Homo sapiens: one gene and its partners. The protein of the gene in region 3 purifies or fractionates together with the protein of the main gene of each other region. This does not show direct contact. Each region holds a gene or a part of one and is shown on either strand. Other genes may lie near its edges. The genes, in order: AMY1C, GTF2IRD1 and AKNAD1.

Region 1 (3,298 bases), 5.1 Mb from region 3:
ATTAAAGTTAAAAATTGCTAAGATTGACCATAAAAATATGTAAATAAGACAACTAAAAATAAATTTACATGCAAGGTGTGTAGGAACACTTAAATGTGTTTGTGGTAAAAGATTATAAAAAGGCATAAAAATGTAAATGTTGCCTATGGAAAAAGGATTCTTTTGAAACCTATGTAAGGGTAAAATTTGGCTTTCCTTCCCTTGTACAGATTTTTCATGTAATAGAGAAGAATAATGAAATATTTGGTTTGCCTTGTTGGTAGAATGCCAAGGAGAGAAAAGAGTAGACAGGAGACAAACTGTTTGGAAAGCTAAGTCTTACCTCTTAATGAGTAAAGATTGTTGCCTAGTTTTAAAATTTTTGAGTCATCCTTTTGCCAAAATAAATAACTTATGTGTAACCTGGAATTGTATTTCATACTATCAAGTGTCTTAAACCTCTTTTTACTAATTAGAGCTTTTATTTAAAATTAATGATATGTAACTATTACTGTATATGTAAGAAAAGAAACACACTTAGCTATTGCTTTGCGGATTTGCATTTAATTTTAAATTTTACAATTTAGATTCAGCATGAATTGCAATAAATGGATCTTCAGCAGAGTTACTAATAGAAAAATGAGCTTTGCCATCATCAGAAACGTAGATTTTAATGCCTGTGCAGTTGCCATTAATTTTATCTCCAGAAATGACATCACAGTATGTGCCAGCAGGAAGACCAGTTTGCAAAGTTAAAGAAAATGTCCTGTAAAATAAAATTTCAGATTTAACTTCAAAACAATGAAATCAAGAATACAGACTAACACAAATAAACAGCATAACTTTATGTTTTAGAACCCTAAGCAGTGAAGTCTCATTAAGAAGAAAACCCATATGCCTCCCTAGTAGGTGTAAACAGCTTTCTAGGACCAAAAGTAACCTTACAGAAAACCTACCAATTTCCTTTTCAGTAGTGAAAATATAACCGAAAAATCAAAGTTGAAGAATATCACCGAAGATTGGCGGGAGCGGTCACATTTTGATAAAGTGCTACCTTGGTAAAATCAAATTTTTTCTCAACTGAACTTAATGCCAATTACTTTAAAAATTTAAAGGGTATTATTTTTTTAACCTTCTTTTATTCTACATGAGGTCAAAAAGAATTTAGGGTGTACATAAAAACAATCTAGCATTTGTATGAGGAAGTGATAGTTTGAAATATAAAGCTTTTTCACAAAAGATTTTTTTGGTATTTTCATCCACAAAAGAAGGAAACTAAGGAAATAGACACGCATTTTTTTGGCAGGAAAGAGATCAACTTGACTTATATATTTTTGTATTTATTTATTTTTCATAAGTGAAGTATAATTTATACTAGAGTGAGCTAAGTATGAGTGTCAGTTGGCCTTGGACAGAGACAATTCAACTGTTTGCAAGGAGGTCTTCTCAGCTACAGTTTCGGGAATCATTTATACTACAGCCAAAGGATACAAAAATCACAGATGAAAGGCCAATAATGAGAAGTTTCAGAACTAAAACTCAAGTCTCCTGAAGCAAATCATTAACCACAAGATACATATTATTTATCCATATGCTTTAAAAATGTTATTTGTCACAAGGAGACAGAGAAGTGAAGAAAGTATACCAAAAAACTAGGTAGAGCTGTCATTGAGAAAAAGAGAAATAAAGATATTTTAGTACTGAGGCAGCATTTTTCCATGATTAAAAGAGCAGGACTATAAGAAACGTTCTTTTAATGATTTCACAATCCTTCTATTAATTACTTTGTGTATTTTGTGGCATGTGTAGGTAAGCATATGAATGTGCATTCTATATATGCATAAGATATTGCAAGGGTGCACAGAAAGGATTCTGCTTACAACAGAAAGCCCTTATGAAAACAGGAGAACGAAGGAGTAACAGCCATCATCCTTTTGCTTCTACCCAATTTTGATCTCTATTGTCTTCTCGCTCCACTGACTACATGATTTTTCAGATATGATAAATGTCAATGAACAGAAAAAAAAAAGAATAAACCAAGAACATACTGGTACAAAATATTATTTTTAATTGATATTTACTTACCAGTCATCATTGTTGAAAACAATGAATCCTCTGTTTCCTCTCCCAAAAGCCACTTGGTTGCTCCCATTATCATACCAGTTTGTAAAAGGCTGGCCATCCACTACATTGCGGAAATTAACCATGTTCCTAAAAACACAATACCATATAAAACGTTGATATTCTTAAACTTCAACTGTTTTAAATAAAGTGCTACGGAAATTTACTATTAGAGGACATGTCTAAATACATATTCTCACCTTATTTGGCGCCATCGATGTTCACAGACCCAGTCATTGCCACAAGTAGTGTCTGGATTAATAGTAACTTCTTTAGTTACTCCATTATCATTTGGTGGCCCAACCCAATCATTAACATCCTTAATTACAGGAGGAAAAGCCAAATTTTAGCATATATATATTTATCTCTTCCTTCTCCTTTAAACCAAACCCAACCTATCCTGTTACTTGTGTCTCTGCATTCAGTGACTTTATCTAGAATCCAATGCCTTCATTGATTTTTATAGCCCTTTACTGGGTCTTCATCATCTCTCTATCCTCTGGTTCTCTTTTGCCATATTTCAAACAAAGGTAGCAAATTGTTATCCTCTCCTTTTCATTCCAAGGCACTGCAAAGACTTCTTTGCTCTGTCACCCAGGCTGGAGTACAGTGGCATGATCGTAGCTCACTGCAGCCTTGATCTCCGAGGCTCAAGCGAACCTCCCATCTCAGCCTCCCAAGTAGCTAAGACTGTTGGTGTGCACCACCGCACCCAGCTAATTTTTTTTTTTTTTTTAATTTTCAGTAGAGGCAAGGTCTTGCTAGCTTGCCCAGATAGGTCTTGAACTCCTCAGGTCAGCTGACCTTCTCAGCTGGCCGCACACAGTGCTGGGATTATAGGTGTGAGCCACTGCACCTGGCCTGCAAGGGCTTCTTAACATCACTGTAAGCCATGCAATGGCATTGAAATGGGAAGGGCATTAGTACTAGAAACACCAGGATTAAAACATAGGCTCTATTACTAGTAGCTGAGAAAATTTAATCAATATAAATAATTTCTCTGTGTCTCAGTTTCCTCATTTGTAAAATGAGAATAATGAGTTCTTTTGCTATAAAAATTAAGTAATATATGTGAAAATGCCTTGAACATGACATATGCTAAATAAATATTGGAGGCCGTCATGCTTCTTTTTAGATAAATGTACAAAATACTACATCTGAACATTTTTTTTTATAAATTGACCATATTTTTAGTATT
Region 2 (3,650 bases), on a different chromosome or scaffold from region 3:
GACCACCACTGGGGCCCTGAGGCCCTCTGCAACCTGACGCTTCCCAAGGGAGGCCAGGTCTCCTCTTCCTGCAGGAAAGACATGGCTGAGCAATCAGCCTTCACTTAGTCATTCAACAAACATTCTCCAAGCACCTGCTGTTGCTGGGCTCTGAACTGTAGGCTGGAGACAGCTAGAAAGGGCAGACACAGCCCCTGACTCTGGAGAGCTCTTGGGCTGGAGAGGGGACAGGGCACTGTGGGTGCCAAGAGAGGGGCCTAAACCCACTGTGAGGGGGCTTCCAGGAGCAGAGCCTCAGTGCCACGCAGGTGTCTGCCAGACACAGGAGGGGAAAGGCAGTCTCAAAAGATGTAACAGCGCGAAGTCCAGGGCATGTGAAATGCACCAGCGAGTGCTGGAGAACTGGAAGTGGTTCTGTAGAGAGGTCAGTAGGGCCCTGTCACCTAGTGGGAGAAGAAGGTGTGGAGGGGATGAGGATGGGTGTGTGGGCCCCTGTGCCATGCTCAGGGTGATGGGGAGCCCCCGAAGGCTGTGGAGAGAAGAGCTTCATTAATGATCAGACTTGTGCTTTGAGAAGATACCCTTGGTTGCAGGGCAGGTGTAGAGAGCTGGTCTGGAAGCAGGGAGACCGTGGCAAGCCTGGGGCTATTTCTAGGCGAGAGGTGGCAGTGACTTGAGCCAGGGCAGGGACAGTAGGGGTGGAGGTTTGGAAAACGGCTGGAGCAGAACTTCTGTGTCTGGGAATGCAGAGATGAGGAAGGGCTGGGGTAGCCAGTAGCCCCATGCCTTGGGGTCCGGCTTTGCCCAGGGCCCATAGTGGGACAGGAGGGGGCCCCCTCTGCTGGGTGGGGACCGAGGCTCCCACCCTCCCTGGGGCCCCCAAATGGAATGAGGAAGGATCTTACTATAAAGAACATCAAACACCTCCTCTACCATCTTCCGCAGAAGGTACACATCTGAGCCATGTTCCAGGGAGGACCGAGGGAGGCTACGGCCTCCACCCTCGCCCCGCTGCACCTTCTTGGGGTGCTCTGCCTCCGGATCCTTCCACGGGGGCCCTCCTGTGGGACACAGAGCACGCGAGGCCACAGTGAGCACCCGTCTCACCACCCGGCCTTCGAGCTGGGATGTCGCTGCCCTGTGCTGAGCTGCGGAGACTGGCACACAATGTGATACACAAGTGAATGAATGAATGAAGAATTAATGAGTGAGCAAGCCCTATTCCAACCACCCCACTGAGGGCCAGGGCTGGTCATCTCAGAGTTCCCAGGGCTGGGCCTCACCTCTGGTCACCTCTAATTTGCTGTGTGACCTTGGGTTAGTCCCTTCTCTCTCTGAGCCTCAGTCTGTGAATGTTCACGGGAGGCCAGCTATTCCAGCTCAGAACTGAGGTTCGATGAATGTTCCATCTGTGTCTTTCTATTTTTTTTTTTTTTTTTTTTTTTGAGACAGAGTCTCGCTCTGTTGCCCAGGCTGGAGTGCAGTGGCACAAGCTTGGCTCACTACAACCTCCACCTCCAGGGTTCAAGTGATTCTCCTGCCTCAGCCTCCCGAGTAGCTGGGATTATAGGCGCCTGCCACCTTACCCAGCTAATTTTTGTATTTTTAGTAGAGATGGGGTCTCACCATGTTGGCCAGGCTGGTCTCGAACTCCTGACCAAAGTGCTGGGATTACAGGTGTGAGCTACCATGCCCGGCCCCATCCATGCCTTTCTGTGCTCTGACACGAACACTGTCTTGACCAATCTATGCCACCGTTTTCTGCTCTGCCGGAGGGAGAGAAAACCCTCCGGCAGAGGGTTGGGAGGCACCCCCCAACCCCTGCTCCAAGGAGGCCGTGGGTTGCAAACAGCAGGTTCATGCCAGGCTGGGCCAGGGTGGGGACCGGAGAGTGTTGGTGGATCCTTGGGGAATGTTCTAGAAGCTGCATTGGAAAGGAGATGAGAGGAGGGGCCTGCGGCCCCCTCCCAGCTTGGAGCCTATTCTCCTCTGGGATCTGCGGAGCTTGAAATAAACCAGCCGAGTTCCTGGTGCTATAAATAGCGGCTCTGCGTGGCTCTAGAAGGCAGGTGCACCGCCTCAGGCTCTGGGCGGCTGGGGTGCCACACGACCTGCTGCTGTCCATTCTACCCGGCCCAGTCCCCCATCCTGGCCCTGGAGAAGGTCTAGGCTCTGAGGGCTGAGGGGGGTGGGGGGCTGGCTGGGGATGCGGCTGCACCCCAGTAATGCTAGGCCCAGCGCTGGGGGATGCCCTTCCCTGAAACAGCTGATCTTAGGGGTGTGAGGTGAATACTAATAATAGTAACAACAGCTGGTGTCTATTGAGTGTGAACCAAGTGCCAGACACTGCCCTAAGTGCTTGCAAGGTACCAATTCGTTTAACCCTCAGACCCACCCGTCCTCCCCTTTCACAGATGAGTGGGTTGAGGCACAGCAGTTGTGGACCCAGGCGGCCCGTTCTCTTAACCTCATGCTATACCATGGTTCTTTTGAGATGGGGACTCACTGTCACCCAGGCTGGAGTGCAGGGGTGCCATCGTAGCTCACTGTAGTCTTGAACTCCCAGGCTCAAGTGATCCTCCTGCCTCAGCCTCTCAAGCAGCTGGGACTACAGGTGTACACCATCAAGCCTGGTTAATTTTTAAATTTTTTGTAGAGACAGAGGCCTTGCTATGTTGCCCAGCCTGGTCTCCAACTCCTGGGCTCAAGTGATCCTCCCATTTCAGCCTCCCGAAGTGCTAGGACTACAGACATGAGCCACTGCACCTGGCCTAAGATGTTAACCCTGACTATAGCCATGACAGTGCCTGCCCCCTCAGGTTGATGTCAGGGTAGGTGAGTTAGCATCAGAAAAGATGCTATGTACAGCAGGCATTCAATAAATCTTATTGGAACATGGCCAGGCATGGCGGCTCACATCTGTAATCCCAGCACTTTGGGAGGCTGAGGTGGGCGGGTCACCTGAGGTCAGGAGTTCGAGACCAGCCTGGCCAACAAGGTGAAACCCCGTCTCTACTAAAAATACAAAATTAGTTGGGCGTGGTGGTAGGTGCCTGTAATCCCAGCTGCTCGGGAAGCTGAGGCAGGAGAATCACTTGAACCTGGGAGGCAGAGGTTGCAGTGAGCCAAAATTGTGCCACTGCACTCCAGCCTGGGTGACAGGGCAAGACTCTGTCTCATTTAAAGAAAAAAAAAATTGTGTTGGCATAAGTGCATTTGGTCCTTGTGTTCAGGAATACATAGTTAAGAGGAAGAACTGAGCAGCAGCCTTGGCCTTGGTGTCCCCATCTGGAAAAGGCAGATGGAAGTGGCTGGCTCTGGCCTACCCTGGGGTTCACCCAGCCAGTCTCTATCAACTCAGGGGCTGCCTCAATAACACCACATCGGGAATCTCAGACAACCTAGCTTGTTAGGTTCACTCCCCACACACCGCCACCCTGGCTAGACAGGGTTGGGGACCCAGAGATGGGCTAGAGCGCCTGCCCTCGGGAAATGGCGGGCCCGGCCCTCCGGAGCCCTGGGGTACTCACGGCAGAACCTGAGGAAGTCTGACTGTAGCTCCTTCCGGGCATTCAGGAACATTCTCCCCTTCTCTGTGCCCACCACAAAGGCGCTCTCATCGTGCACGGCGACACAGGCCACCTCGGCGT
Region 3 (4,407 bases):
GTATGAGTCCTATTTTCTCTTTTTTAAACAAAATTTAAAGCACCCATTCAGATATCTCTTCCTGATTTGTGAACTTTTGGGATGATTCCTCAGAAGTAGTAATCTCAAGTTTTAAGTAGAGTAACTGAGATTCCCTCTCCCCTGGAGCACCAGCCCAGGGTGACCACAGCTGCTGGCAGCCTCCCTTGCCCATACAATGATTATGTTGGGTGAGCAGATCTCTGAGGTTCTCTCTCCAACCAAATTTTTATGAGTCTATAAGCTGGTGATTTATTAGGTAACCTCAAAAGCTAAAATCATATGTTTGACCAAAATAAATTTTTTTGAACTAAGTCGTCCAAGAAAAAAAGGAGTACAAACTAAATGTGGTAAAAGCATCTGTGAGACATTGTACAAAAATCTTAATTTATAGACACATGCCAATGTTAGAGAACCCAAATTAAACAGATGCTCTGTTTAGAGAGGTGGAGAGAAAGGAGAATATCACTGCAGGATTATTTTAAATCATTTAAAGAGGGTAACATTTAGTATAAAGTGAGGCATGTCTTCATGAGAAGAATTACAGGCTATTCTAATCCAAGTTGAAGAACAAGGGAAAAGGCTTCCCAAGAAAGTGAAAGGCACAGTGGGAAAGCAGAAGTGGAGAGGCATGGATCTGAATACTCTGGCTTCTCTGCTTTCTAGCTGTGTGTCATCTGGCAAGTTATTTAACTCTTGTGAGTCTCGGTTGCCTTTTCTGAGAAATAGGACTAGCAATACCTGAAATAAGGCACTAAAGTACTCGGCATAGGGCTTGGCACAGAGTAAGAATTCCATACATTGTTGTTGAAAAATGAAAAAACAAAACCAGTCTCAGTATTGGAATACTGAAGAATGCCCAGGTCCAGAGGTGAGGCACTCCTTATCCGTGGGGATATTTAAAGGATAAAGGAAGGAATTGCATATGTAAAACATAATCTCGTCCAAGCAAGGTGGCTCATGCCTGTAATCCCAGCACTTTGGGCGGCCGAGGCAGGTGGATCACGAGGTCAAGAGATGGAGGCCATCCTGGCCAACATGGTGAAACCCCGTCTCTACTAAAAATACAAAAAATTAGCTGGGCGTGGTGGCGCACACCTGTAGTCCCAGCTAGTCAGGAGGCTGAGGCAGGAGAATCACTTGAACCCGGGAGGCAGAGGTTGCAGTGAGCCAAGATCGCGCCACTGCACTCCAGCCTGGCGATAGAGTGAAACTCCGTCTCAAAACAAAAAAGACATAATCTCTACAAGAACTTTAAGACAATTTTAAAACTCAATCTGTAAATAAATATATTTGAAGGTAAAAAAAAAAATCAGGCTGGATGAGGTGGCTCATGCCTGTAATCCCAGCACTTTGGGAGGCTGAGGCAGGTGGATCACTTGAGCTCAGTAGTTCAAGACCAGCCTGGCCAATGTGGCAAAACCCATTTCTACTAAAAATACAAAAATTAGTTGGGCATGGTGGTGCATCCCTATAGTCCCAGCTACTTGGGAGGCTGAGGCAGGAGAATCACTTGAACCCGGGAGGCAGAGGTTGCAGTGAGCCGAGATCATGCCGCTGTACTCCAGCCTGAGCAACAGCAAGACTCTGTCTCAAAAAAATAAAAAATAATAAATAAATAAATAAATCACTAAGCAAGTTTAAACAAAATATTGTCTAATTTTTTAGAACAAAAAAAAACAGAGTATCTTTTTTTTTTTTTTTTTAGACAAGGTCTCACTCTATCACCCAGGCTGGAGTGTAGTGACAACACCATGGCTCAACTGATCTTCCTCCCTTAGCCTCCTGAGTAGCTGGGACTACAGGCGCACACCACCACACCTGACTAATTTTTAATTTTTTTTTTAGAGATGGAGTTTCACCATGTTATTCAGGACGGTCTCGAACTCCTGAGCACAAGTAATCCACCTGCCTCAGCCTCCCAAAGTGCTGGGATTACAGACATGAGCCACTGTGCCTGGCCTGAGAGTATGTTTAAATGCCTACAGAGAGAATGGAAGAAGAAGAAAACAAATTCTAGTTTTGCAAGACTTTTAATGACCCAAGTATCAGTCCCAAAGTTATCCTCATGCTTTCTTTACATTTTCAGGAGCTCATTGCCAAACGCCATACCCTTCTTGTATAGAAAGGAAAGATACTTTGTTGGCCAAATTCCCACTTTTAAAATATAATTAATTAAAACTGATAAAATTTGAATTTTGCTCTGGCTCTCAAGAAAAAGAAAAAAAGTCCAGGCACAGTGGCTCATGCCTGTAATCTCAGCACTTTGGGATGCCAAAACAGAAGGATTCCTTGAGGACAGGAGTTTGAGAACAGCTTGGGCAACAAAGCAAGACCCTGTCTCTACAAAGAAAAAAAAAATTAAAAATTAGCCAGCAGTGGTGGTATATGCCTGTAGTCCCAGCAACTTGGGAGGCTGAGATGGAGGATCAGTTGAGCCCAGGAGGTCAAGGCTGCAGTGAGCAGAGATCATGCCACTGCACTCCAGCCTGGGTGACAGAGCAAGACCCTGTCTCTCTCTCTCTCTCTCACACACACATAAACACACACACACAAACACACACACAGACAAAGAAAGAAAGAAAGGAAAAGAAAAGGAGTGAGATACCATTAAGATAAACCAGAAACCTGAGGAACACTCTCATTACATACAGGAAAACAGCTTCTGTTGTTATTATTTTTTGCATGTGTGCATGCAAAATATCAAGAGGATTTTTTCTGGAAAAGGACAATCCATACCCTTAGCAAGGTAATGAGCTTCTTTGAGATAACTGGAGGAACTGGAGCATCTTCCCATGTCAACACTTGGCTCAATCTTGAAATCCAAAGGCATATCCAAAGAGGTTCCACTCAGAATCCAACAGAACCTTTCTGTAGAATCCAAATTGATTTTCTGAAGTCAGGTGACTACATTTGGGGCCACGCCTGCTTATGCAGCTATCTTGACCATTATGTGCTCAGCAATACCTCACAAGTCACTCTGAGATGAACACTTTGAGCAAACAGGGCCAGGACATCACAGTGACCCAGGCTGTGAAAACACTTCAGGCCAGTCCCTGAGTAGGAATGGACAACAAGGTGGTCACCATGCTGACAGCTATTCCCTGTGTGATTTACTTTATTATGAAGTCTAAATTTGATGCTGAAGTGCTAGCCTAAGCTCACTAACCTGCCAACTTAGAGAAGAAGGTAACCATGGCTAGGATGACTGGGAATCTGATGGACTCAATTAAGAATTTCTACAGATGGGAAAACCAAAACTCCTTAGTGGCAAGAGGCCAAAGATGGTCAGCGAATTGTTGTTTCCGGCTGGTAGGTGACATTTCTTCTATTCGCTAAGCCCATTTTGTGATAACACAGTTTTCCATATTGACAGGATTGTTTTCATCACCAAAGGAAAACCGTGGGTCCATGTTCCTGTGACAATCTCTTTGTCTCATTCCCAACACCCTCTGTTCTGTGTTTAAACCTCTACAAACCAGGCAAACTGGGGACTATGTGTAGGACCCAGACATGGAGGAGAAAGCAGGCATTGTTTCTACTTACCTTATCTGCCCCTCCACTAAGGTACCAGTTAGTACAACCACGTAACACTCACAAGTCCTACACTTCTAAGATCAGCCCTACTGACTTTGTCACGGTAAGAGTTGGCTGTTGGAGGCAATGATTCAACAATCTAAATTCTGATTATTCCTTTTTGTATCTGTCATTTAGAATGTGAATAGTGTACATCTAAAAGCTTTAAGTACATTATCCATCAATTTTTACTACACAAAGCAGTATGCTGCTCTGTCTTCAAACAGCACAATGCTACAGTCAACACAAAGGGCAAAACCATGGCAATATGGCAATTGCAATAGAAACTCACCAACATCTTGGAGTCTCTGGATATCACAGGTGAACAAGTTGAAGGGCCTTGCGACACAGACAAGCAACCCTTTAATTCTAAATCATCTTTTTTTCAACAGTTGGAAGTTGACTGCAGTTGAATAACAGAACAAAAACGGAGCTTCAAAATCATGGCGTGCCTGCTTCTTCTGGGTTCTTTTAACTGCAAGCAATCAGCTTTGAAGAGCACGTAGGGAACTTCTGATGTGATACAAACTTTTGTCTTTTTTTTTTTTTTTGTCTTTTAAGAGCATTCAAAAACACTTGGTCTGGCTGTTTCAATTTTCTCTTTCTCTCCTATTCCTAGCTCAAGAATAACATTTACATATGAAAGAAAATAGGAGATGGCTCAGAATAATATGTCCAAGGCCACGCCCAGGCGTCAGGGATTCATGAATTTTGTATACAGTGTATGATGTTTCTAGATTAAAATATTTTCAAAGGTAACATGATATAGGCTCCCTCTGTAATGACTGCATTTGATTATGCTCTGGTAATTCT

Evidence for each region.
Region 1: the proteins of AKNAD1 (region 3) and AMY1C purify together in Homo sapiens (affinity purification with mass spectrometry, with the first as the bait; one large-scale study listed by BioGRID). This does not show direct contact.
Region 2: the proteins of AKNAD1 (region 3) and GTF2IRD1 purify together in Homo sapiens (affinity purification with mass spectrometry; one large-scale study listed by BioGRID and IntAct). This does not show direct contact.

Annotation. Positions count from the first base shown.
Region 1 is NC_000001.11:103,755,916-103,759,213, reverse strand, and holds the end of AMY1C (alpha-amylase 1C precursor), read right to left. Parts: intron 2,420-3,298; coding exon 2,301-2,419; intron 2,191-2,300; coding exon 2,065-2,190; intron 746-2,064; coding exon 556-745; 3' UTR 522-555; downstream 1-521. UniProt on the Homo sapiens protein: Calcium-binding enzyme that initiates starch digestion in the oral cavity.
Region 2 is NC_000007.14:74,512,852-74,516,501, reverse strand, and holds part of GTF2IRD1 (general transcription factor II-I repeat domain-containing protein 1), read right to left. Parts: coding exon 3,531-3,650; intron 1,158-3,530; coding exon of another isoform or gene 1,062-1,157; coding exon 906-1,061; intron 1-905. UniProt on the Homo sapiens protein: May be a transcription regulator involved in cell-cycle progression and skeletal muscle differentiation. May repress GTF2I transcriptional functions, by preventing its nuclear residency, or by inhibiting its transcriptional activation.
Region 3 is NC_000001.11:108,854,172-108,858,578, forward strand, and holds the start of AKNAD1 (protein AKNAD1), read right to left. Parts: upstream 2,924-4,407; 5' UTR 2,758-2,923; intron 1-2,757.